Linked DNA regions of Homo sapiens: region 2 is linked to region 1. The links come from fine-mapping of genetic effects on gene expression. A gene starts in region 1. The other region holds a variant in brackets. All regions are shown on one strand. Distances are between the middles of the regions. Region 1 holds the start of NEURL2 (neuralized E3 ubiquitin protein ligase 2). Region 2 overlaps LOC107985388 (pre-mRNA-splicing factor cwc22-like).

What was found. PIP is the estimated chance that this variant, and not a neighbour inherited with it, causes the effect.
Region 2: its variant is fine-mapped to the expression of NEURL2 in lung (GTEx, PIP above 0.99). The same link has a PIP of 0.9 or more in spleen.

What each region holds. Positions count from the first base shown.
Region 1 is chr20:45,886,588-45,894,587 of GRCh38, reverse strand. NEURL2 (neuralized E3 ubiquitin protein ligase 2) reads left to right here and starts at 3,380. Exons shown (of 2, transcript NM_080749.4): 1 at 3,380-4,338; 2 at 5,715-5,954. The coding sequence starts at 3,597. The coding sequence ends at 5,830. SPATA25 (spermatogenesis associated 25) reads left to right here and starts at 6,966. Exons shown (of 2, transcript NM_080608.4): 1 at 6,966-7,052; 2 at 7,443-8,000. The coding sequence starts at 6,998. It overlaps CTSA (cathepsin A), which reads right to left and starts at 3,253. Exons shown (of 15, transcript NM_000308.4): 1 at 3,209-3,253; 2 at 2,826-3,019; 3 at 2,561-2,672; 4 at 2,265-2,315; 5 at 2,104-2,190; 6 at 1,708-1,863; 7 at 1,277-1,368; 8 at 516-600. The coding sequence starts at 3,019. RefSeq lists enhancers at 2,917-2,966, 3,206-3,915, 7,254-7,754, 7,755-8,000 and a silencer at 3,007-3,276.
Region 2 is chr20:45,917,768-45,934,276 of GRCh38, reverse strand. It overlaps LOC107985388 (pre-mRNA-splicing factor cwc22-like), which reads left to right. Exons shown (of 1, transcript NR_171669.1): 1 at 1-783. Among named protein-coding and RNA genes, the nearest start is that of PCIF1, 8.7 kb to the left of the region's middle. RefSeq lists enhancers at 1-284, 544-693, 976-1,668, 6,673-6,967 and a silencer at 9,413-9,707. The variant GC/C (reference allele first, on the strand shown) is at 7,140.

The sequences.
Region 1 (8,000 bases):
GTTGTCCCAAGATTTACTGCTCTTGGATTTCACCTCTTCACCCACTTTTTTTCACAGGTAGGGAAACTGAGGCTCAGTGGCAGGAATCTTCCCAGACCTGGGTCCAAATCCTAGCATCACTGCCTCCCAACACTGTGACTTCAGACAGTGATTTCAAAATTCATAGCCCTCAGTTTCCTTATCTGGAAAATGTGGGTAGTATGATCTCATTTGAGGGGGAATCTTGAAGCTTAAATAATCTACATAGACACAGTTCAGCACAGTGCCTGCCACGTTGCAGGTGTTTGATAAATGTGAAGAAGTCCTTTCTCCTCACGGAGGTTATGGGATTTGCCACCATAGGAGGTGGTGGTGGGAATACACACTTAGACACATGTCCCAGAGAACACTAAATTGCTTAAAGGTGCAAGAAAGCAATGAGGGACGGAGAACAAGGAGTCCCCAAGGAGGGAATGTGGTCCTGTTCTCAGGATTAGGGATGGGAGAGCTCATGCAAAGTGATGGCAGAACCTCACATTGGTCACGCATTCCAGGTCTTTGTTGTCATAGAAGTTACACTTGTTTTGAGAGCAGCAGTGGGTCTGGAGAGAAGACCAAAGCCTGTAGGAGATGAGAGTGAAAAGCGCATCAGCTGCTGGTGGGAAGAGGAAGGCAGAGGAGGCGAGCATACCCCCCACCTCCCACCAACCTCCCTGACCCTAGGAGACTGGGAAAGATATCACAGGGTGTGGTCTGTATGTCATCTAAGCTAGCTCCCAAAGAGGTGCCCCAGGGTCATACAGACAGGCCTCCTTAGTTCCTTTAAAATCTGATTTCTGGCTGGGCGCTGTAGCTCATGCCTGTAATCCCAGCACTTTGGGAAGATCATTTGAGGCCAGGAGTTCAAGTCCAGCCTGGCCAACACAGCAAAACCCCATCTCTACTAAAAATACAAAAAATTAGGCAGGTGTGGTGGTACGCGCCTGTAGTCCCAGCTGCCTGGGAGTCTGAGGCATGAGAATTGCTTGAACCTGGGAGGTGGAGGTTGCAGTGAGCTAAGATCGTGCCACTGCACTCCAGCCTGGGTGACAAAGTAAGAATCTGTCTCAAAAAAAAAAAAAAGAAAGAAAGAAAAACTGATCTCTATTCTTTGGCCTTTCAGCACTAGGTTCTTTCTGCAACCCACCTGCTGCTCATAAACCTGGGCTGGGCCTGTCATATCATGTGCCTGGAGGACAGACCTGAGATCATGTGACCTGCCTCACCCCAGAGATTGCCCAACTGCCCTATCCCATACCTGTTCCCCAGAAGGCCATGGTAGTAGGCAAAGTAGACCAGGGAGTTGTCATTCTGCTCATAGGAGGAGAGTCCATTGCCCACAGCCAGCCCCTGTGAAACACCCAGGGTGCTCAGCTCATGTGGAGGGCAAAAAGGAAGAGCCTCCCTCACCCTACCACCCAGACCTTCAGCAATCCGGAAGCTGAAACCCAGGGTGGTTTATGTAGGCCGGTGGGTATGAGAGGCCACTCAATGCAAAACACAGAGCTGGCAGCCTGACAGGTGAGTTTCCTGTGTGGGAGGCACACAGACAGACCTAGGGCAGCCGGTGGTGGGGAGGTTATGCAGGAAGCTGGGTTGGATGGGGACATTGACCAGTCAGTCTGACCTTGCTAACTGTAAGGCCACAGCCTCAAGCTACCTCCCTTCCCTCCTGCAGCTACCCTGCACCTGAAGGTTCATGCTGGGATCCTGCATGACCAGCACGGCCAGGGTGGGGATGTAGATGCCAGCATAGCTCTCCCCGGTCAGGAAAAGTTTGTTGTTCTTGTACTCCGGAAAGAGGCGGAAGAAATCTTGAAGGGCCTCAAAATTGCTCTGGGCGACCTGGGGATGGCAGAGCAAGACAGAGGGAATCAGGAAGCTTTGGTATTTGAACTGGAAAGAACTTCAGAGATAATGACATTAACCCACCCTATTTGTGCAAGAGGAAGTGACTGGCCACCATACCACAATAGCATATGACAGAGCGAAAAGTAGACTCCAAGGCCATGCTCTCTCTCCCAGCATCATGCCATGGATGGAGGACCGGGGAGCCTGGGGCAGATGGGCAGGCACCAGACTCACCTCAGTGTCATTAGTTGCATAAAACTTGTCATCGGAGTAGGAGAAGCCCACCCCAGCTGGGGACTCCAGGTATAACACATTGGCAATCTAGAGGGGAGGGAAAAATTAGCTAAATGCCACCCCATCCAAGTGCCCAGACACACCCACAGCTCCAGCTATACCAGATTCCAAGAATAGGGGTTGTACTCCAGGGTGACACCATCTGGCTGGACCTGAGGAGGAAAGAGATGGCTGAGTAAGTCCCAAGGGCCAGCTGGGTGGAGGGAAAGGGCCACCATGAGAGGCACTTTACATGTGGGTAAAACCTCTGAGAGGTACAGGCAGCAAAGCCAATGGCATAGAGGAAAATCCCGAGGCTTAGAAGGAAGGAAACTTTTTGGAAAATCACAAAGCCCCTCTCTCGCTTTCCCCAGCCTTTTACTTTGGGAACTGTGCTTTCCCCCTGCTGTCCACTCACCAGGAAGGGGCCATGCTCTGTGAGGAGCCCATCTAGTGAGCTGCAGCCGGGACCCCCATTGAGCCAAAGCACCACAGGGCTGTTCTCGGGATCCTTCTGGGACTCCACAAACCTGGGAGGGGGGTCAGGGCAGGGTTGGCGCAGTTGGAGGGGCCCTTTCCAGCCCTCCCGGCTCCCAGGCATCCTCAGGGGTCTGCAGAACTACCCCCCATCCCTCATCCGTCATCTCTTCTCCCAATCCCGCCCAGAAGGCAGGGCGGCAGACCAGTAGTGGAGGTGCTTGGAGCCGGAGCCTTTGAGGTAGCCGGAGTACTGGCGGAAAGACGGCTGCTTGGCCAGCCCGGGGAGGCGCTGGATCTCGTCCTGGTCGGGGGCTGCCTCGCCTCGGGACGCCCAGGACACTAGCAGCAGCAGCAGCAGCAGCAGCAGGAACAGCGGCGGCGGCGCGGCTCGGATCATCTACGGGAGGCAGCAGAGGGGCTGTTGACTCGCTCCTCAGCGCTTCCGTGCAGCAGCCCCCGGGGAGTTGCTGGCGGCGCCTCCGCGAGGGAAGCCCCGGCCCCAGCGCCAGCTCCCACCCGCGAGCCTCCTCTGCCGCGCACCGATCCCGGGCTCGGGGATCCCCTCCAGCCTCCGGTGCCAGCTCACCTCTGCTCCCCCGCGTCCTTGCTCTCCAGGAGGCGCCCGGGGACTGGAAGTCATGTGTACGAGTCACGTGAACTCCGGCGCCACGTGACAGTCTTCCTCCCGCCCCTTCTTTGGTCCCTACGGACCTGGGGGGCGGTGGCGGTCAATGCCGGGTCAAGGTCCGCGGGCCTCGCAGATCGTAGCCCGGGCGCACGCGATCAGATGATCCTGTTGTGGACGGCTAAGTTGTAGGCGGGATGGCTGAGAAAGCGGCGCTAGGACCCCCGGGCAGAGGCTCGGGGAAGGGAGTCAGGGGGGAAATGCCTTACAAGGTCGCCTTGCGGTCACCATCATTGCCCGCCGCCCAAAATAGCCCCCGGCGCCAGCTGGCCTGCCCTATGGCCGAGAGATGGCTGCTGCCTCCGAGCCCGTGGATTCGGGTGCACTCTGGGGACTCGAGCGCCCGGAGCCCCCTCCCACCCGCTTCCATCGGGTGCACGGTGCCAACATCCGCGTGGACCCCTCTGGGACGCGGGCCACACGCGTGGAGAGCTTCGCCCACGGCGTGTGCTTCAGCCGCGAGCCGCTGGCCCCGGGCCAGGTCTTCCTGGTCGAGATCGAGGAGAAAGAGCTGGGCTGGTGCGGACATCTGCGTCTCGGTCTGACCGCGCTGGACCCCGCCAGTCTGGCCCCCGTTCCCGAGTTTTCTCTGCCCGATCTGGTCAACCTGGGCCACACCTGGGTCTTCGCCATCACGCGCCACCACAACCGCGTGCCCCGGGAGGGCCGCCCGGAGGCGGAGGCAGCGGCCCCCAGCCGACCTCCAACCCTCCTCGTGGAACCATATCTGCGCATTGAGCAGTTTCGCATTCCCCGGGACCGCCTGGTGGGCCGCAGCCGGCCAGGGCTCTACAGCCATCTCTTGGACCAGCTCTATGAGCTGAACGTGCTGCCTCCGACCGCGCGCCGTAGCCGCCTGGGTGTCCTCTTTTGCCCGCGCCCCGATGGCACGGCCGACATGCACATCATCATCAACGGCGAGGACATGGGCCCGAGCGCCCGGGGACTGCCAGCTGCGCAGCCCCTCTACGCGGTGGTGGACGTGTTTGCTTCCACAAAGAGCGTGCGCCTTGTCCAGCTCGAGTATGGCTGTAGGTATCCCTGGGCAGCGACCCCTCCTGGCTCAGTGTGGGGACTGGAATCTACTAGGGCTCCGTAGCCCATGTGCTAGGCCTTCGTCTGTCCGGCACTAGTTTAAGAGTGGGAGAATCTAGCTTCAAATTGCACCTCTGCTTGTGATCTTGCACAAGCCTCTACATGGTTTTGGGCCTTGGTACCTATCTTGGTTGATTGATTAAGATGCCCTACAAGTTCCCTTTTAGTTTTGATAGTGTTTCCTGTATTCACCTAGGGCAGGGATTCTAAACCAATTTTAGATATTAGGGGCCTCTTTGAGAATTGTTTGCCCTTTTCTTAGAAACATGCTTGGCCGGGCACAGTGGCTCACACCTGTAATCCCAGCACTTTGGGAGGGGGAGGCAGGCAGATCACTTGAGGCCAGGAGTTCGAGACCAGCCTGGCCAACATGGTGAAAGCCTGTCTCTACTAAAAATACAAAAAGTAGCTGGGTGTGGTGGCATGTGCCAATAATCCCAGCTATTCAGAAGGCTGAGGCAGGAGAGTCACTTGAACCCGAGAGGTGGAGGTTGCAATGAGCCGAGATCTCACCAGTGCACTCCAGCCTAGGCAACAGAGCAAGACTCTGAAAAAAAAAAGAAAGAGAGAGAGAGAGGAAGAGAGAGAAAGCAAGCAAGCAAGCAAGCTAGCTAGCTCAAGCCTGGGCAACAAAGTGAGACCCCATCTGTACAAAAAATTAAATAATTATCTGGGCATGGTGGTGCATGCCTGTAGTCCCAGCTATTTGGGAGGCTAAGGCAGGAGGATCGCTTGAGCCCAAGAATTGAAGGCTGCAGTTCACTGAGCACTGCACTTCAGCCTGGGTGACAGAGCAAGACCCTCTCTCTTTAAATAAAAAAAAAAAAAGAAAGAAAAGAAAGAAACATGCTCATAGACTTGGGCATATTGGCTATTGGCTTCGAGGCATAACAAACCCCAGACTGAGAGCTTCTTAATGCTGAGTATGATTCATTATAGCCCTGGTAAGCATTGCAGTTATACCTCTCATCACATTTCATGAACTCAATGCACCAGAACCCTCTTTGTGCCAGGCCTGTGCTGGAGGCTTCAGTTGCACAGGCAAATCAGACACTACCCCTGCCCCCAGAAGCTGCTAAGTGAATGGGGAAGGGATTGTGCTAAGTGTTATGATATAAACAGGGCTGCAGCTTTGTGGCAGCTCTCAGGAAGAGGTGCTTCTCTCAGCCCCATGAAGCAGGCTGGGCCCAGAGAGCAGTAAGGACTTGCCCACATTTAATGACAAAGTGGGGACCATGACCTAGACCTTCTGGATCTTGGCCTCAGACCCACCCTCCAGTTCAGTTTGCCTTTCACAGTCTTCTTCCCACAGTGCCATCCCTGCAGACTCTGTGCCGCCTAGTGATACAAAGGAGCATGGTGCACCGGCTGGCCATTGATGGGCTCCACCTGCCCAAAGAACTTAAGGATTTCTGCAAGTATGAGTGAAGACCCACAGTGCACCAGAGCACAGCTGCATCCTGGAGCCCCAGACCTGTGGCTGGCTGGTCCGAAGTTGGCCACATTGCTGCCAGCCAAGACCAGAAATAAACAGCCGATGCTGACATCTTGATCACTGGAAGGTCTCCTTGCCCCTACAGCCTATGAGAGTCACTTCGTTTAGAATCACTGCAGGTCAGCAGGTCGGAGCAAAAGAGCAGGGGTCCCTAGGCTGGCTGCTTGTTAGAGTCATCTTAGGATATGTAAAGAGTGCTGGTGTCCCACATCCCATCCCTAGGGATTCGTATTTGATTTGTTGGGAAATTAGGCCTAGACATTGTGTTTTGTAAAAGCTTCTCAAGAGATTCTCATGTACAGCCAGGGTTGAGAAGTATGTCCCTAGAAAAAAGGTTCCAACTTTGTCATATATTATAATCACTTGAGGAATTTTGAAAAATACCAATACCTGGCCTGTAATCCCAGCACTTTGGGAGGCCGAGGTGGGCAGATCACTTGAGGTCAGGAGTTTGAGACCAGCCTGGCCAACATGGTGAAACCCTGTCTCTACTAAAAATACAAAAGTTAGCCAGGTGTGGTGGCAGGTTCCTGTAGTCCCAGCTACTCGGGAGGCTGAGGCAGGAGAATTGCATGAACCCAGGAGGCAGAGGTTGCAGTGAGCTGAGGTCTTGCTCCTGCACTCCAGCCTTCCAGTCATGGCGACAAAGTGAGACTCTGTCTCAAAAAAAGAAAAAGAAAAATACCAATACTGGGTCTGACCCGAAGTCTTACTCTACAAGGCACGAAGCACTTGGCTCCTGTGTTTCCATCTCTGGTCATCTGCTTCCATACAAATGATCTCATTTCATCCTCAAAACTCCTAATGAGGTAGTGGGCAGTCATCAGACACACTTTACAGATAAGGATATCAAGGAACAAAACTATCTGGGTGACTCGTTCAAGGTTAGGGCAAGAACCTAGAACACCCAGCTCCTGGTCTGGTGCTCTTTTAACCTCATCCTATTGTCATGTCCAGGTTCTAGAATGAATAGGTCAACGCTGTAAAGTGGATTCCAAGTGTGAAGGGGAGGGTCTATGAGGTGACATTCTAGAAGGGTGAAGAAGGGAGGACAGGCGGCAGATCACTATTCCCTCACAAACCGGGGCTTTGGGGAAGCCATGTCCTACTTCAGGACTCCACAAACTCATCCAGGTCCTCTGCCTTCCGGCCAAGGTGAGCGGGGGGCACCTGCAATTGGAGGGAGTGCGGCAGCTTCCCCTGAGAAGTTGCTTTCTGGCTCTGGGGAGGTGGCGGTTCTGCTGGGCATTTGGGGGCTGGCCCTAGAATCAATTCTTTTAGAAGAAAAGCCATTCCAAACATCCTTGCCAATCAATAACTACCCGCTTGCTCACTATTCATTAATTCAACAAACGCTTCTCCATCACCTACTCCGTGTTGGGGACTGGGAGTGTGGATATGAGTAACACCTAGTTCCCAACCTCTAGACAGTCCGCTGGGGCTGGTCTTAGTTACGCCCCCAAGCTCTGCTCCCATGCCCTGCCCCTCAGGGCCCCCTCCTCAAAGAACTGAGAATAACGTTCCATTTCATTCCTGTCTCTGCAGGTGGGGCTGCTTCTCCAGGCTTGTCCCTTGGCCTCTGTAGTCCTGTAGAGCCAGTGGTGGTGGCCTCTGGTGGAACAGGCCCACTGAGCCAGAAAGCTGAGCAGGTGGCACCTGCTGCCCAGGCCTGGGGCCCAGCCCTGGCAATGCCACAAGCCAGGGGCTGCCCTGGGGGGACTAGCTGGGAGACACTACGGAAGGAATACAGCCGAAACTGCCACAAATTCCCGCATGTGAGGCAGCTGGAGAGCTTGGGCTGGGACAATGGCTACTCCAGAAGCAGAGCCCCTGACCTGGGTGGCCCCAGCAGGCCTAGGCCCCTGATGCTGTGTGGGCTGTCACCACGGGTTCTACCGGTACCCTCTGAGGCAGTGGGGAAGGAGGCCAGCTCCCAGCCTGATATCTGCATCCTCACCCTCGCCATGATGATCGCTGGCATCCCCACCGTGCCCGTCCCAGGAGTTCGGGAAGAGGACCTGATCTGGGCCGCTCAAGCTTTCATGATGGCCCATCCGGAGCCAGAGGGTGCTGTGGAGGGGGCGCGGTGGGAGCAGGCACATG
Region 2 (16,509 bases), 35 kb before region 1:
ACCTGGGTCCTGGCACCCGCGCGGCTCTGCCTCTTCCAGCCAGTCTCTTTCCCTCTCTGGGCCTTTGTGCTGCGTGGTGTCCAAATGTTAAGAAGCCCTGCCCCATGCCCGGGCTACATATACATCGAACCCAAGCTGTAAATGCTCTTGAGTAGAAGCAACTTAAACTAGCCTTCGGGGGCAAGTAATAGAGATGGCTTTCGGCAGAGTTGGGAAATCAACTAAATGCATTGTAGGGCCTTTCCAACATTGACATCTGTGGCCATTAGTTGCAGTTCAAAGCCTCACTGAGCCCTCAAACCAGCTACAGCGGGTAGCCTGGCAGGGAACTGGCAGCTGTGAGGTGCTCCTCATCCGGCTCCCTGCAGGATTCTTTTTGGTAGGAGCCTGCAGGCGTCCGAGTGGTAGCTCCACCCATCTCCGGTCTCCCCAGCAAGCATCCCTTCCAGTGCTAGCTTGAGAAGAGGAAAAGCTTGCCACCTGCTGTCAGACCGGCGCTTGTGTGGAGCCAGGGGCTGTAGGTACCCCGGCTGAGTAGCCTCTCAGATGTCCATGGTCCTGGCTGCACGCCAGCGTGGGGGCAGGCAGGCGGACGCTCAAGAAAAACGGAGGCACCGATATGAGTAGTAATTGAGAACGAGGGTTCATGATCCTCATCTGATTTCAATCCCTGCTCCTCCACCCAAAATGTGTGGCCTTGAAGGAGTTAACCAATTTAAATTTTAGTTTCCTCAGTGGAAGATAATAAATCCGCCTACCTCATAAAGGTTTGGTGAGAATTAACTCAGGTGATGCATGTGAAGTCCTCAGCGCAATACCTGGCGCTTCCTAAGTGCTGAATCGGTTAGCCGTGATCATCTCACAGTGGCATGAGCATTGCTCCAAGTAGATTTGAGCCCTCCAGAAATAAGCCAGCTCTATATAGGCACAGCAGTTCTGCCCTCGCAGAGCTTCTCGTTCAGATAAGAGGCCTGATGGGAAACCAGACTCCTGGGTCCTGTCTCAGTTCTGGAAGGGTGGGGGGCCAGCTTTGATTTATGCCTGCTGCCCTGGCATAATTACTAATATTGCCTCCTTTTTCAGAAGTGCCCTGCTTTGGGCCGGGCGTGGTGGCTCACCCCGGTAATCCCAGCACTTTGGGAGGCCGACGCAGGTGGACCACCTGAGGTCAGGAATTCAAGACCAGCCTGGCCAACACGGCGAAACCCCGTCTCTACTAAAATTACAAACATGAGCCAGGCCTGGTGGCGCGCGCCTGTAATCCCAGCTACTCGGGAGGCTGAGGCAGGAGAATCACATGATCCCGGGAGGCAGAGGTTGCAGTGAGTCGAGATCGCGCCACTGCACTCCAGCCTGGGCGACAGAGTGAGACTCCTGTCTCAAAAAAAAGTACTGCTTTGGGCAGTAAACTACGTGGTCGCTCTTGACCTACGGGATAACCAGTTTTCCATGCTCATGCCCCCCAGCTAGCCCGCGCTTTCACTAAAGTTTAAAAACCATGTAGTGATTATTACCCTTTTTTTTTTTTGAGACGAAATCTCGCACTGTCGCCCGGGCTGGATTGCAGTGGCGCGATCTCGGCTCACTACAACCTCTGCCTCCCGGGTTCAAGCAATTCTCCTGCCTCAGCCTCCCAAGTAGCTGGGATTATAGGCACCCGCCACCACTCCCACCTAATTTTATTTGTATTTTTAGTAGAGACGGTGTTTCACGATGTTGGCCAGGCTGGTCTCAAACTCCTGACCTCATGATCCGCCCGCCTCGGCCCCCCAAAGTGCTGGGATTACAGGCGTGAGCCACCGCGCCCGGCCTTTTATCTATTCTTTTATGTTTTCAAAGTATTTTCTCATTCATTGTTCAGATTCTCTTAATTGATAACCAAGATACCAAACATCCCAAGTGCCTAGTCTTCTGTTTTATCATGGAATTCTGTGAATTATTACCTAAATCTGCACATGAGCAAACAGGTTGGAGCGAGGGGCAGGGGCGAAGTCATTGTCCAGGTTCACACAGCCATCAACAAGTAACAAAACTGGGATTTTAAGCCCGGAGTTCTCAACACCAAAATGCAGGGCTGGTTCCATTAAACCACTCTGGCCTCCCTGTTTTGTGAAGAAGGGATCTAGATTCAGGCGATGTGACTGGTCTGAGTGGACACAGTGGCCCTGGATAGTTCAATCTTTTTTTTTTTTTTTTTTTTTGAGACGGAGTTTCGCTCTTGTTGCCCAGGCTGGAGTGCAGTGGTGCAATATCGGCTCACTGCAACCTCCGCCTCTAGGGTTCAGGCGATTCTCCTGCCTCAGCCTCCTGAGTAGCTGGTGTTACAGGCATGCGCCACCACGCCCGGCTAATTTTGTATTTTTAGTAGAGACGGGGTTTCTCCCTGTTGGTCAGGCTGGTCTCGAACTTCCCACCTCAGGTGATCCGCCCACCTCGGCTTCCCAAAGTGCTGGGATTACAGACGTGAGCCACCGCCTCCGGCCTGGATAGTTAAGTATCTTAAAGGTTTCTCTATCTCACAGTGTTCAGCACTGCTTTTCACCTGATACATGCCTCATCTTCTCCGTTTGCTCACTTTCCGCATGTCAAAACCAGCCTCTTCTCAGCTGGGTGCGGTGGCTCACGCCTGTAATCCCAGCACTTTGGGAGGCCAAAGCGGGTGGATCACCTGAGGTCAGCAGTTTGAGACCAGCCTGGCCAACAGGGTGAAAGCCCATCTGTACTAAAAATACAAAAATTAGCTGGGCATGGTGGCAAGCGCCTGTAATTCCAGCTACTCAGGAGGCTGAGGCAGGAGAATCGCTTGAACCCGGGAGGAAGAGGTTGCAATGAGCCGAAATCACACCATTGCACTCTAGCCTAGGTGACAGGAGCAAAACTCCGTCTCAAACAAAACAAAACCCAACCTCTTCTCACCATTCTAATGACTACCTTAAGAGCTGGCGTTTCCCACCCCTACCCCCCTTTTTTTTAGAAGCAGAGTCTCAGTCTATCTCCCAGACTGATGTGCACTCATAGCTCATTGTAACCTTGAACTCCTTGCCTTAAGCAATCCTCCTGCTTCAGCCTTCCAAAGTGCTGGGATTACAGGCATGAGCCACCACACACAGCCCAATTTTGTTTTGTTTTTTGAAAAGGAGTCTTGCTCTGTCGCCCAGGCTAGCGTGCAGTGGCGCGATCTCGGTTCACTGCAACCTCTGCCTCCCAGGTTCAAGTGATTCTTCTGCCTCAGCCTCCCGAGTAGCTGAGATTACAGGTGCCCGCCACCATGCCCGACTAGTTTTTTTTTTTTTTTTTTTTTTTTTTTTTGTATTTTTAGTATAGACGGGATTTCACCACGTTGGCCAGGCTGGTCTCGAACTCCTGACCTCAGGTGATCCACCCACCTCAGCCTCCCAAAGACAAATTTTTAAAACCTTTTTATTGTTAAGAATAGCATATGGGGCTGGGTGTGGTGGCTCACACCTGTAATCCCAGCACTTTATCCCAGGAGGCCTAAGCGGGCAGATCATGAGGTCAGGAGATCGAGTCCATCCTGACCAACATGGTGAAACCCCATCTCTACTAAAATACAAAAAATTAGCCGGGCACGGTGGCACGCGCCTGTAGTTCCAGCTACTCCGGAGGCTGAGGCAGGGACACCACTTGAACCTGGGAGGCAGAAGCTGCAGTGAGCCAAGATCGCACCACTGCACTCTAGCCTGGTGACAGAGCAAGACTCCGTCTCAAAAAAAAAAAAAAAATAGTGTATGATAGACTGGCACAGTAGCTCATGCCTGTAATCACCAACACTTTGGGAGGCCAAAGTGGGAGGATACCTTGAGGTCAGGAGTTAAGAGACCAGCCTGGGCAATGTAGCAAGACCCTGTCTCTGAAAAATGTTTTAAATAAAATTAGCCGGGCATGGTGGCATGGGCCTGTAATTCCAGCCACTTGGGAGTCTGAGGTGGGAGGATCACTTGAGCCCTGGACGTCGAAGCTGCAGTTAGCTGCACTCCAGCCTGGGCGACAGAGACCGTGTCTTAAACATAGCTGGGCGCAGTGGCTCATGCCTGTAATTCTAGCACTTTGGGAGGTGGAGGTGGGTGGATTGCTTGAGTCCAGGAGTTTAAGACCAGCCTGGGCAACATGGTGAAACCTGCGTCTCTACAAAAAACACAAAAATTAGCCAGGTGCGGAAGCACACACCTGTAGTCCCAGCTACTTAGGGGGCTGAGGTGGGAGGATCACTTGAGCCCAGGCGGTCAAAACTGCAGAGAGCTATGATCATGCCACTGCACTCCAGCCTGGGCAACAGAGCAAGACCCTGTCTCAAAAAAATGTATACAAAATAGACTGGGCATGGTGGCTCACGCCCGTAATCCCAGTACTTTGGGAGGCCGAGGCGGGTAGATCACAAGGTCAGGAGTTTGAGACCAGCCTGGCCAACATAGTGAAACATCGTCTCTACTAAAAATACAAAAAAATTAGCTGGGTGTGGTGGTGCATGCCTATAGTCCCAGCTACTCAGAAGGCTGAGGCAGGAGAATCGCTTGAACCTGGGAGGCAGAGGTTCGATGAGCCGAGATCAGACCACTGCACTCCAGCCTGGGCAACAGAGCGAGACTCCGTCTCAAGAAAAAAAAAAAAAAAAAGAATAGCACACATGGAAAAGTGCACAAAACATAAATGTAAAACCTAATGATTTATCAAAAAGTGAGCCTGGGTTAGCATCACCCATGCCATGGTACTGAACAGTCAAGCAGAAGACCTCTGCAGGGTAATTGGTGTTCCAACTACTTTTGTGATAATCGCTTCCTTGCTTTTGGAGTTGTACCACCTGAGAATGTGTCCCTAAACACTGTAGTTTCGTTTTGTCTGTTCCTTGAACTTTATGTAAATTGAATTATACAGTATTATTTTGTGTCTGCCTTCTTTTGCACAAGAATACACTTGCAAAACTCCTTTATGTTGTTTCATATAGCTGTGGTGAGTTCATTTTCATTGCTGTTTTTTTGTTTTCCACTGTATGTTTATCTACTCTATTGTTAAGGGATATAAGTGAAGCCTCCCACCTGCCATACCTCTCAATTTCTTTTCTAAAAATTATTTTTATTTTTATTTATTTTTTTAGACAGAGTCTCGCTCTGTCGCCCAGGCTGGAGTGCAGTAGCGCGATCTCAGCTTGCTGCAACCTCTGCCTCCTGGGTTCAAGTGATTCTTCTGCCTCAGCCTCCCAAGTAGCTGGGATTACAGGCACCCGCCACAACACCTGGCTAATTTTTGTATTTTCAGTAGAGACAGGGTTTCTGCATGTTGGCCAGGCTGGTCTCGAACTCCTGACCTCAAGTGATCTGCCCGCCTCGGCCTCCCAAAGTGCTGGGATTACAGGCATCAGCCACCGTGCCTGGCTTTATTTATTTGTTTATTGAGTCTGGCTCTGTCACATGGGCTGGAGTGCCATGGCACAATATCAGCTCACTGCAGCCTCCGCCTCCCAAGTTCCAGCAATTCTCCTGCCTCAGCCTCCCAGGTAGCTGGGATTACAGGCACACGCCACCACGCCTGGCTAATTTTTGTATTTTTAGTAGAGACAGGGTTTCACCGTGTTGGCCAGGATGATCTTGAACTCCTGACCTCAGGCGATCCACCTGCCTCTGCCTCCCAAAGTGCTAAGATTATAGGTGTGAGCCACCATGCCCAGTCTCTCTCTCTCTCTCTTTTTTTTTTTAACTAGAGATGGGGTCAGTATGTTGCCAAGACTATCTCTAACTTCTGGGCTGAAGCAATTCTCCCACCTCAGCTTCCTAAAGTGCTAGGATTACAGGTGTGAGCCACTGTGCTTGGCCATACCTGTTAATTTTCAAAGTGGCCTTCTGATCCTCCAGCCTTGCTTCTCTTCTAGTTCATAATCCACCAAGGAGCCACGGGGATCTGGCCATATAGCAAATCTCATCAAGTCACTCTGGGCTTAAAGCTCTTGAATGTCTCCCCATTGACTACGGGACAAAATCCCAAACCCTTAATTTGGCCTACAAAACCAGAATTATAATGAGCTACCATGGCAGAATATTTACTATGCACAACGTCAAGCACTTTACACACATTCATTTTATTCATGATCTGGACCTTCAAACCATCTCTTCTTGATCCAGTCCCAGCTACCATGAACTACTTCATAATTTCCCTAAATGTGCCAGGTTCTTTCATGACCCTGATCCTTTGTGTTTTTGTTTATTTCTTTCTTTGTTTTGTTCGTTTTTGAGCCAGAGTCTCCATTTGTATCCAGGCTCACTGTAGCCTTGACCTCCTAGGCTCAAGTGATCCTCTTACCTCAGCCCCCTAAGTAGCTGGGACTGCAGGAGCACACCACCACCACACCTGGCTCATTAAATTTTTTTTTTTTTTGTAGAGACAAGATCTCACTATGTTGCCCAGGCTGGTCTCAAACTCCTAGCCTCAAGGAATATTCCTGCTTCAGCCTCCCAAAGTGTTGGGATTTCAGGCATGAGCCACCGTGTCCAGCTCCTGAGTCTCTGCATATGCTGTTTGCCCTTACTCTTCTTCCCCTCTTGACCTAATTCAGCCTTCGAGTCTTAGCCTAGATGTCGCCTCCACCAGGCAGCCTTCCCTGAACTTCCTTCTACCCCGGCTAGGACAGGTTCCCTCTCTTGTACTACCACAATGGTCTAAGCTCATAATGTTTGTCAATTTTCCTCATCCACTAGGCTGTGCGCTGCTTAAGGGTGGGGCCTGGGGCTTATTCACCCTTGTAACCCCATGCTCAGTACTGTGCCTGACCCTCTGTAAATATTTGATGACCATGAACAGACCACTCTGGGTTGAAGTCTAGGTGGCTTTTTCAGGTAGCCCGTTTATTTATTTATTTTTTGAGACAGGATCTCCCTCTGTCGCACAGGCTGGAATGCAGTGGTGTGATCTTGGCTCACTGTAACCTCTGCCTCCAGGATTCAAGCGATTCTCCTGCCTCAGCCTCCGGAGTAGCTGTGACTAAAGGCACACATCACCAGGCCCAGCTAATTTTTGTGTTTTTAGTAGAGATGGGGGTTTCACCGTGTTGACCAGGCTGGCCTCGAACTCCTGACCTCAAGCAATCTGCCTGCCTCGGCCTCCCAAAGTGGTGGGATTACAGGCGTGAG[GC/C]ACTGTGCCTGGCCAGGTATCCCCGTTTCTATTCCAGGCTCTGGTTTCTGTGGTGGGAACACCAAGGCAGCACCCTGTGGGCTGCCTGCTGTGGCCGAGTCTCTGTCAGTAGCCTGGAGTCTTTTATTCCCAATATAGGGATGAGCAGTTGAGCAAAGATCCTAAGGCTTTCCATTTCTCCAGCTACTTTTCTGAACTAAGAAGCCTGGGTAGACAATAGGTCTGGGCTGAGAGAGGTGGTTGGAATAAGCTGGGCTCCTCTCCCTGGCACCAGGGCCGGCTGCATAGATTTAGAAAGGCCCATGCTTACTGGGTGTGGAGGCTCATGCCTGTAATCCCAGCACTTTGGGATGCCAAAGTGGGAGGATTGCTTGTGGCCAAAAGTTCAAGACCAGCATGTGCAACATAGAACCCCATCTCTACATAAAATAATAATAGTAATAATTAGCTGGGCATAGTAGGTGCTCCTGCAGTCCTAGCTACTTGGGAGGCTGACGCAGGGGGTGATTGCTTGAGTCCAGGAGTTCGAGGCTGTAGTGAGCCATGATTGCACCACTGCACTCTAGACCCTGTCTCAAAAAATAAAAACAAGATGAAAATAAAAATAATAATAAAAAAGAAAAGTCTGTGTTTGGTTTAATGTTCTACTGTCACCATCTTAAAAATCTTAATAATTTTGGAACAAAAGTCCCACGTTTTCATTTTGCCCTGAGCCCTGAATATTGTTTTTTGAGACAGCGTCTTGCTCTGTCACCCAGGCTGGAGTGCAGTGGTGCAATCTCGGCTCGCTGCAACCTCCCCCTCCCAGGTTCAAGCAATTCTCTTGCCTCAGCCTCCCCAGTAGCTGGGACTACAGGCACGTGCCACTGGGTCCAGGTAATTTTTAGATTTTTAGTAGAGATGGGGTTTCACCATGTTGGCAAGTCTGGTCTCACACTCCCAACCTCAGGTGATCCACCCACCTTGGCACCCCAAAGTGATGGGATTACAGGCGTGACCCATCATGTCCGGCCCTAGCCCTGAAAATTATGTCACCACTCCTGGCTGGTCACTAGCTGCCAGGGCCTCTGAGGACCCCTGCCTCAACTCCGGACAAAGCCAAGCCTCCACACTAAAGCAGAAACATAAACAACCAGCTCAGGTTGCCACATAGCTTAACCCCCTTGTTCTCTGCCACTGCAGCAAGAAGCTGCTGAGAGGGAACTTTCATCCCCTGAGGTCCTGGCAGCTGGGGAAGGGAGACTCTAGCTGGATCCCACTCCAGGTTGCCCCCGCCTAGGCTGGGCTTGAGCTGGCCATGGACCCTACACTGCAGTTTAAATTATGCAAAGGGAGTTTCCAAGGCAAGTGGGTCTGGCCCCCGGAAAGCTGTGGAAAGGAGGCTTCCACCCCAAACTGTGGTTCCCACAGGGAGTGGCTCTTGGGCCATTCTGGGACCAGATGAGAGAAGCCATTTAGGCCAAGAATAGATGAGAGGAATGGGGGCGTCTCCCTTGGTCTTCCTGGCCTTGGAAGCGTCTGATGTGGTGTACTATTCCCTCCATTTCTTCCCTTGGCCTGTCCTAGAGTCTTGAGAATAAGCGATAAGTAAGACGGACAGACGGTTTGTCTTAGGGAGCCCACAGAGCAGTGTGGGAGGCAGACATATACATGAACCCTCTGCCACAGGGAGATGAGGGCTCTGGAGGGATGGCAGGGGCTGGGGGTGGTGGGCACACAAAGGAGAAAGCTTCAGAGGAGATGACAATGAACAGATTCTTATTGGAAAAATAGATTTTCCAGGTAGGCAAGGAAAAGGGGAGGGCACAGCGTGTGCCAAGGCCTGGAGGTATAGAAAGGGAGGGTGTGTTTGGAGAGCTGGTCAACCTGAGCACAGCCAGGGAGCAAGGGAGGTGCAGGTCCTACCAGGACCCTGGAGTCCAAATTCAGTCCTTGCTCTGGGTTAGTGCTCAGCATCCCAGGCGGCGTTTGGTCATATCAAGATAGGGGTGGGCCACCTGTGGTGGTCCCCTCCACTCTCCCACCCATTCCCTGTGATGCGCTTTTTTTTTTTAAGACAGTCTTGCTCTATCGCCAGGCTGGAGTTCAGTGGCGCGATCTCGGCTCACTACAACCTCCAACTCCCTGGTTCAAGCGATTCTCCTACCTCAGCCTCCTGAGTAGCTGGAATTACAGGCACATGCCACCATGCCCAGCTAATTTTTGTATGTTTAGTAGAGATGGGGTTTCATCATGTTGGCAAGGACAGTATCAATGTCCAGACATCATGATCCGCCTGCCTCGGCCTTCTAAAGTGCTGAGATTACAGGCGTGAGCCACCGTGCCCGGCCGTGATGCTCATTTTTGCACTTCAGTCAGAGTGGCCAAGAGCCAGGATGTTTACTCCCATATGAGCTGAGTCTGCAGAATTCCAGACTTCTTCAAAAAAGAAACAAGAGCGACAGCTGGTAGCTTCCTGAAAGTCTGAGATCACAGAAAACTGACTTAGAAAGGAGAGAAAGGAGGACACCCCACCCAGCCTGGGTCCCAGCTGGGTTCCCAGGACACATCTAACCCAGAGATCTCAACCCGAGCTAGGAAAATGTTTTTAACAGCTTTATTAGGGTATAATTTACAGACTACAAGACTCACTTGTTTTCAGTATACAATTCTATCACGCCTGTGATCCCAGCACTTTGGGAAGCCACGGCAGGCGGATCGCCTGAGGTCAGGAGTTCAAGACCAGCCTGACCAACATGGCGAAATGCCATCTCTACTAAAAATACAAAATTAGCCAGGCTCAGTGGTGTATGCCTGTAATCCCAGCTACTTGGGAGGCTGAGGCAGGAGAATCCCTTGAACCTGAGAGGCGGAGGTTGCAGTGAGCTGAGGTCACGCATTGCACTCTAGCCTGGGCAACAACGGCAAAACTCAGTCTCAAAAAAAAAAAAATACAAAAATTAGCTCGGCGTGGTGGTGGGCGCCTGTAATCCCAGATACTTGGGAGGCTGAGGCAGGAGAATCGTTGAACCAGGGAGGTGGAGGTTGCAGTGAGCTGAGATCATGCCACTGCACTCCAACCTGGGAGAGATTCCGTCTCAAAAATAAATAAATAAATAAATACATATACAATTCTGGCCGGGCACAGTGGCTTACACCTATAATCTCAGCACTTTGGGAGGCTGAGGCAGGAGGACTGCTTGAGCCCAGGAGCTAGAGACCAACCCAGACAAGACCTTGTCTCTACTAAAAATAATAATAATAAGTAAATGAATAGGCCGGGCACGGTAGCTCACGCCTGTAATCCCAGCACTTTGGGAGGCTGAGGAGGGTGGAGGTGAGGAGTTCGAGACCAGCCTGGCCAACGTGGTGAAACCCTGTCTCTACTAAAAATACAAAAATTAGCCAGGTGTGGTGGTAGGCACCTGTAATCCCAGCTACTGGGGAGGCTGAGACAGGAGAATCGCTTGAACTCAGGAGGCGGAGGTTGCAGTGAGCCGAGATTGCACCATTGCACTTCAGCCTGGGGGAAGGAGAGAGACTCTGTCTCAAAAATGAATGAATAAATAAATAAATAAATAAAATTTGTTTTAAGTAAATGTATAGAGTTATACAATTGTCAACACAGTTCTGTTTTAGAACATTTCCATTACCCTAAAAGATTTCTTGGGCTTGTTTGCAGTCAGTTCCTGTTCCCACCATCAGCCCCCAGCAACCACTGGCCTGCTTTCTGTCCCTATAGAGCTGCCTTTTCTGAACATTTCATATAAATAGAATCACACAGATGTAGTCTTTTGCAGCTTGCATCTTTCACTTTGCATTATGTTTTTGAGCTTCATCCATTTTGAAGCATATATCAGTAGTTGATTCTTTTTTTATTGCTGAATAGTGTTGCATTATACAGATATACCATATTTTATTTGTTTACCAATTGATAGTTGAATTGTTTCCACCTTTTGGCTATTACGAATAACACTACTATCAACATTCATGTACAAATGCATTCATTTTCCTTTTCTGTGGGTAGACCCTTAGGAGCGAAATTGCTGTATGGTAAATTTGTGTTCAACTTTTTTTTTTTTTTGAGATGGAGTCCTGCTCTGTCGCCCAGGCTGGAGTGCAGTGGTGCGATCTTGGCTCACTGCAACCTCTGTCTCCTGGGTTCAAGCAATTCTCCTGCCTCAGCCTCCTGAGTAGCTGGAATTACAGGTGCCCACGACCATACCCAGCTAATGTTTTTATTTTTGGTAGAGTTGGGGTTTCACCATGTTGGCCAGGCTAGTCTCGAACTCCTCCTGACCTCAGGTGATTCGCCCACCATGGCCTCCCAAAGTGTTGGGATTACAGGCGTGAGCCTGCTGGAAGGTGAGGTAGAAGGGGCCTGGGGGTGGGTTAGGTCAAGGAGTCCCGATTTCTGCTCAGCCCACTGAGATCCTGTGGGGGCACCTCCCATGACCTTAGGCGTCTCTCAGGCCTCTGGGGAGATTAGGAAAGTATGACATTCTTGGCTGCAGACCAGCTCCAGATAACCCCGGCTAAATGCAAGGAAATGGGTGGTACCAGCAGAAAGCATAGAGCTTAGAGGCTCAGCCGGGGATTAGATCAGGGCTACAGAGTGCACCATAAAAGCTGCTCCTTCTGAAGGGTCTAGGGATGATAATAACACCCCATCTTGAATTCAACAAACATCTTTTTTTTTTTTTTCCTGAGATGGAGTTTCGCTCTCTTGCCCAGGCGGGAGTGCAGTGGTGTGATCTCAGCTCACTGCAACCTCTGCCTCCCAGGTTCAAGTGATTCTTCTGCCTCAGCCTTCCAAGTAGCTGGGACTACAGGTGTGTGCCACCACGCCCGGCTAATTTTTGTATTTTTAGTAGAGACGGAGTTTCACCATTTTGGCCAGGCTGGTCTCGAACTCCTGACCTCGTGATCTGTCTGCCTCGACCTCCCAAAGTGCTGAGATTACAGGCATGAGCCACCGTGCCCGGCCATCTTGAATTCAACAAACATCTATTGAGCATTTTCTGTGTGCCAGACCCTGTGCTGGGCACTGGACATATGGCCATGAATAAGAGTGGCAGGCTCCTGTCCCCGCCCTGGGGAGCTTGCAGTCTACTGGAAGAAACAGGCAATAAAGAATTAAACAAACAGAATGACAGGTAATGACACAGAGGGGGCCTCTTCTGTGGGGGTGACATTTGAGTAGGGATCTGAGTAACTCTGCATGGGTATGTGTGTGGGATGATGTGTCTGGTGGAGAAAAGAATTAAGGAAAGTCTGAGGCTGAAGGCACTTGGTGTGTTCCCAACAGTGGTAGAAGATGGGCTTGGAGAGGAAGGTAGGCAGGAGCTAGTTCACCTGCAGTGTTTCCAGAGGTCGTGGCCAGAGTCTGGGTTTTATTTTGTGTGTGATGGGGAGGATGTTGAGCAGGATAGAAAAATTCTATGATTCCCATTTTTAAAAATATCACTTAGATTGATGTAGAGAGGCTAGACCTACAGGAGAAATGGTGAGACAGGGAGATAAGGCAGGTTGTCCCGGTAACCAATGAAAATGGCTTGAAGTGGTGTTGGTGCTGATAGAGAGAATTGTATAGATGTGGGGCATCTTTTTTTTTTTTCGAGGCAGAGTCTCGCTCTGTTGCCCAGGCGGGAATGCAGTGGCGCAATCACAGCTCACTGCAGCCTTGACCTCCTGGACTCAAGCGATCTTCCCACCTCAGCCTCCCAAGTAGTTGGGACTATTGGCGCATGCTACCACACCTGGCTAATTATTTTTTGTAGAGACAAAGTCTCACTATGTTGCTCAGGCTGGTCTTGAACCCCTGGGCTCAAGTGATCCTCCCACCTCAGCCTCCCAAAGTGCTTTGATTACAGGCATAAGGTGAGGCGTCTTTTGGAGTTAGAGACACCGGGATTTGCTGATGTGGGGTATAACAAAAAAAGGAAGTCAAGGATGACTCCTATATTTTTGACTTGAGCACTGCATAAAGCTGGTGCCATGACCTGTGATGGGGAAGCTTGGAAAAGGAGCAGGATTTGGTACTTGCTAGGGTTGGGGGGGAGCTAAAATATGGATCTAGCTGGGTGGAAGAGAGGAAGAAGGCCAGAGGGCGGTGACATCCTCATGATTCCTGGCTAGGGGTTGGCAATCTTGTTAGACCAAAGCCTGGGTTATGCGGGGGACTCCTGCAGTATTAGGACACCTGGAAAAATTCGAGTTGCATTATGTTGACCACTTCTTGCAACATTTCAGCAAGCCCTGCAGAAAAGGGACAAGCTTAGGCTGAAGATGGTGGCCTATCCTTATTATCAAAGGAAAAAATCCCTTCCTTTGGGGCCCCCTCCCTTCACTTACTTTGAAATGTTGTGACTGGCTTATGAAATCCAAACATCTAGACAGAGCTGCTATGGATCCTCCACCTCTTCCTCAAAACAAGTAGAGGCTGGAAAGCCCACGTGGAGTATAAGGAAAGCACAGACGGTTAGGAGGCTTAGAGGACCACAGAAAGAGGTCCCCATGAGTCAGAGTCAGCTAGCAGACTGACAGAGGCATAGAAACTGGGAAGAAGGGTGGGATATGAAGAAGAAAAGAAAAGGGAAGTCAGAGAGAGAGTGAGCTGCCCAAGGCTGACATCCGAGCCCTGATGGAGAGGCACCAGGTGTGGGGATACAATGCCCTAGGACCGAGGACCCAGGGAAAGCAACACCTCATAAGGAACCTTAGAATCCTTGAGTTTCTAATCTGGAGGTGACTTCAGACACCAAGTGGCCTGTTCTTCACACAGAAAATGGACTGGCCTTCAAGGAGGAAATGGGAAAGAAAGAAGAAAACAACAGATCTCCCAGCTTTAGAAATCACGGAAAGTCAGTCCACAGCTTTGGCCTGGCTGAACTCAGCAAGCCCCAGCCCTTTTAGATTCCTTTTACCCATTTGGTAAATGTCCAGCCCTCACGCGGACTGTTTTGTCCAGTTGCATTCTGGAAACAGATGATCATTTCGCCTGTCTGGAGAGATGTAATCGGGGTCTTCCTGGCCTGAGATTTGTCCTCCTCAGATAATCCTCCTCTCATTCCAGCTGGGTCCCCTGTCACATGTCCCCAGGTGCACCCATGCTGACCAACACAGGCGCATGAGCTGCAGTGCTCATATGCTCAGGCAGAGTGAGGAGAAGGGGGTCACTCCCTGAGGGGTAGCTGGGGTGGGCGTTGGGGGTGGGGACTGGGCAGGAGAGGAGATGGGCTGACGCAGCTTCTCCAAGCCATGCAGAGATCCAAAGAAAACACAGCTGGAGGCACAGCGAGGGAGGAGGGGGCCAGAGCAGTGCATGTTGACATGTTGGGCAGCAATCCAGCTTGGCCTCCTGTGGTCAGTGGAGCCCGTGTTTACTTCCTTGGACCAGTTATTTCCTCGTACTGAACCTCAGTTTCCAAATCTGCAAAACAGGGCCAATAATAGCTATCTCAAGGCACTGCTGTGAGAGTTACATGGGATAATGAAAAAGAGAGAGACAGAGAGAGAAACCTAGTTACAAGCATAGGCTCTGGGGCCAGACTGACTTGAGCTTATAACTGCTGGGCCTCAGTTTCCTTATCTGTAAACTGGGGGTGAGGATACCTATCTTGTAGGATGTTATGAAGTGTAAGTGAGTTAATATGTGGAAGCACTTTCTGGCCAAGTGTGGTGGTTCACGCGTGTAATCCCAACACTTAGGGAGGCCGAGGCAGGCAGATCGCTTGAGGCCAGGAGTTTGAGATCAGCTTGGTCTACACAGTGAGATTCTATCTCTACAAAAAAATTTTAAAAGTTAGCTGAGCATGGTGGTACATGCCTATAGTTCCAGCTACTCGGGAGGCTGAGATGGGAGGATTACCTGAGCCCAGGGAGGATGAGGCTGCAGTGAGCCATGATCGTGCCACTGCCTTCCAGCCTGGGTAACAGAGTGAGACCCTGTCTCAAAAAAGCACTTTCTGTTTGTTAAGCAACTATGACAACTATTAATACTAATAATCAGGCCAGGCACAGTGACTCATGCCTGTAATCCCAGAACTTTGAAAGGCCAAGGCGAGAGGATCGCTCGAGCCCAGGAATTCTAGACCAGCCTGGGCAACAAAGTGAGAGCGCCCCACCCCGCCACCAAGTACTAGGTTCCACACTTTGTATACTTTATCACTTTAAATCCTCACTGCCACCCAGGGAGGTAGGTAAGTACTAGATCATCCCATTTTACAGATGTGGAAACTGAGGTTCAAAAAGTGTTTTTTTTTTTTAGAGACAGGATCTTGCTGTGTCACCCAGACTGGAGTTCAGTGGCACAATCATAGCTCACTACAGCCTCGAGCTCCTGGGCTTAAGCAATCCTCCTGCCTCAGCCTCCCAAAGTACTGAGATTATAGGCATGAGCCACCATGCCTAGCCCAGAAAGAGATTTTTCATTTCCTCTGGAACAGGGGTTGGTAAACTATGGCCTGTGTGCTAACTCCAGCTCCCAGCCTGTTCGTTAGATATTGTTTATGGCTGCTTTCATGCTAAAGTGTAGGGCTGAGCAGCTGCGATAGAGACCACAGGGTGTGGAAAGCCTAAAATATGTACACTTTGGCCTTTTCAGGAACAGCTTGCTGACATTTGTTCTAGAAAAAGGCAGAAGCAGGACTTTGCTATCCTGATTCCTTTACAGGAACAGCTTGCTGACATCTGTTCTAGAAAAAGGCAGAAGCAGGACTTTGCTATCTTGATTTCTTACCAGTATTGCTGTGCTGGGTACACAACTGAGGCTGGAAAGGCACTTCCTTCCTGTCCCTCTGAGTGCTGGGAAGCCTCTCCTTCTCTCTTCAAAGCCAGGGATGAGGCCGGGCGCAGTGGCTCATGCCTGTAATCCCAGCACTTTCAGAGGCCGAGGTGGGAGGATTCCTTGAGGCCAGGAGATGGAGACCAGCCTGAGTAACACAGTGAGACCTCATCTCTACAAAAAAAAAAAATTACAAACATTAATCAGCCGTGGTGGTGCATGCCTATAGTCCCAGCTACTCAGGAGGCTGAGGTGGGAGGATTGCTTGAGCCCAGGAGGTCAAGACTGCAGTGAGCCAAGATTGTGCCTCCGCACTCCAGCTTAATAGGCAGAGCCAGACTCTGCCTCAAAAGACAAACAACAACAAAACCAGGAGTGAAAGTGGGAAGGGATTTGGGGATTTGGCTCTCTCCATGTCTCAAGCCCGGTGATGAGCACTCGAGGAGGCTGCCAGAGCCCATCCCACGCTGCACATCTGCTGACATCACTCTTAACGTTTGAGGGTTGTGTGCACCATATGTTTTAGAGGAAAAGGGAAATCAATGTATTAAAGAGGGACAGGCTGAGTGGGGAAGGCCCTGGATTCAGGGCCAGTGACTGCACCT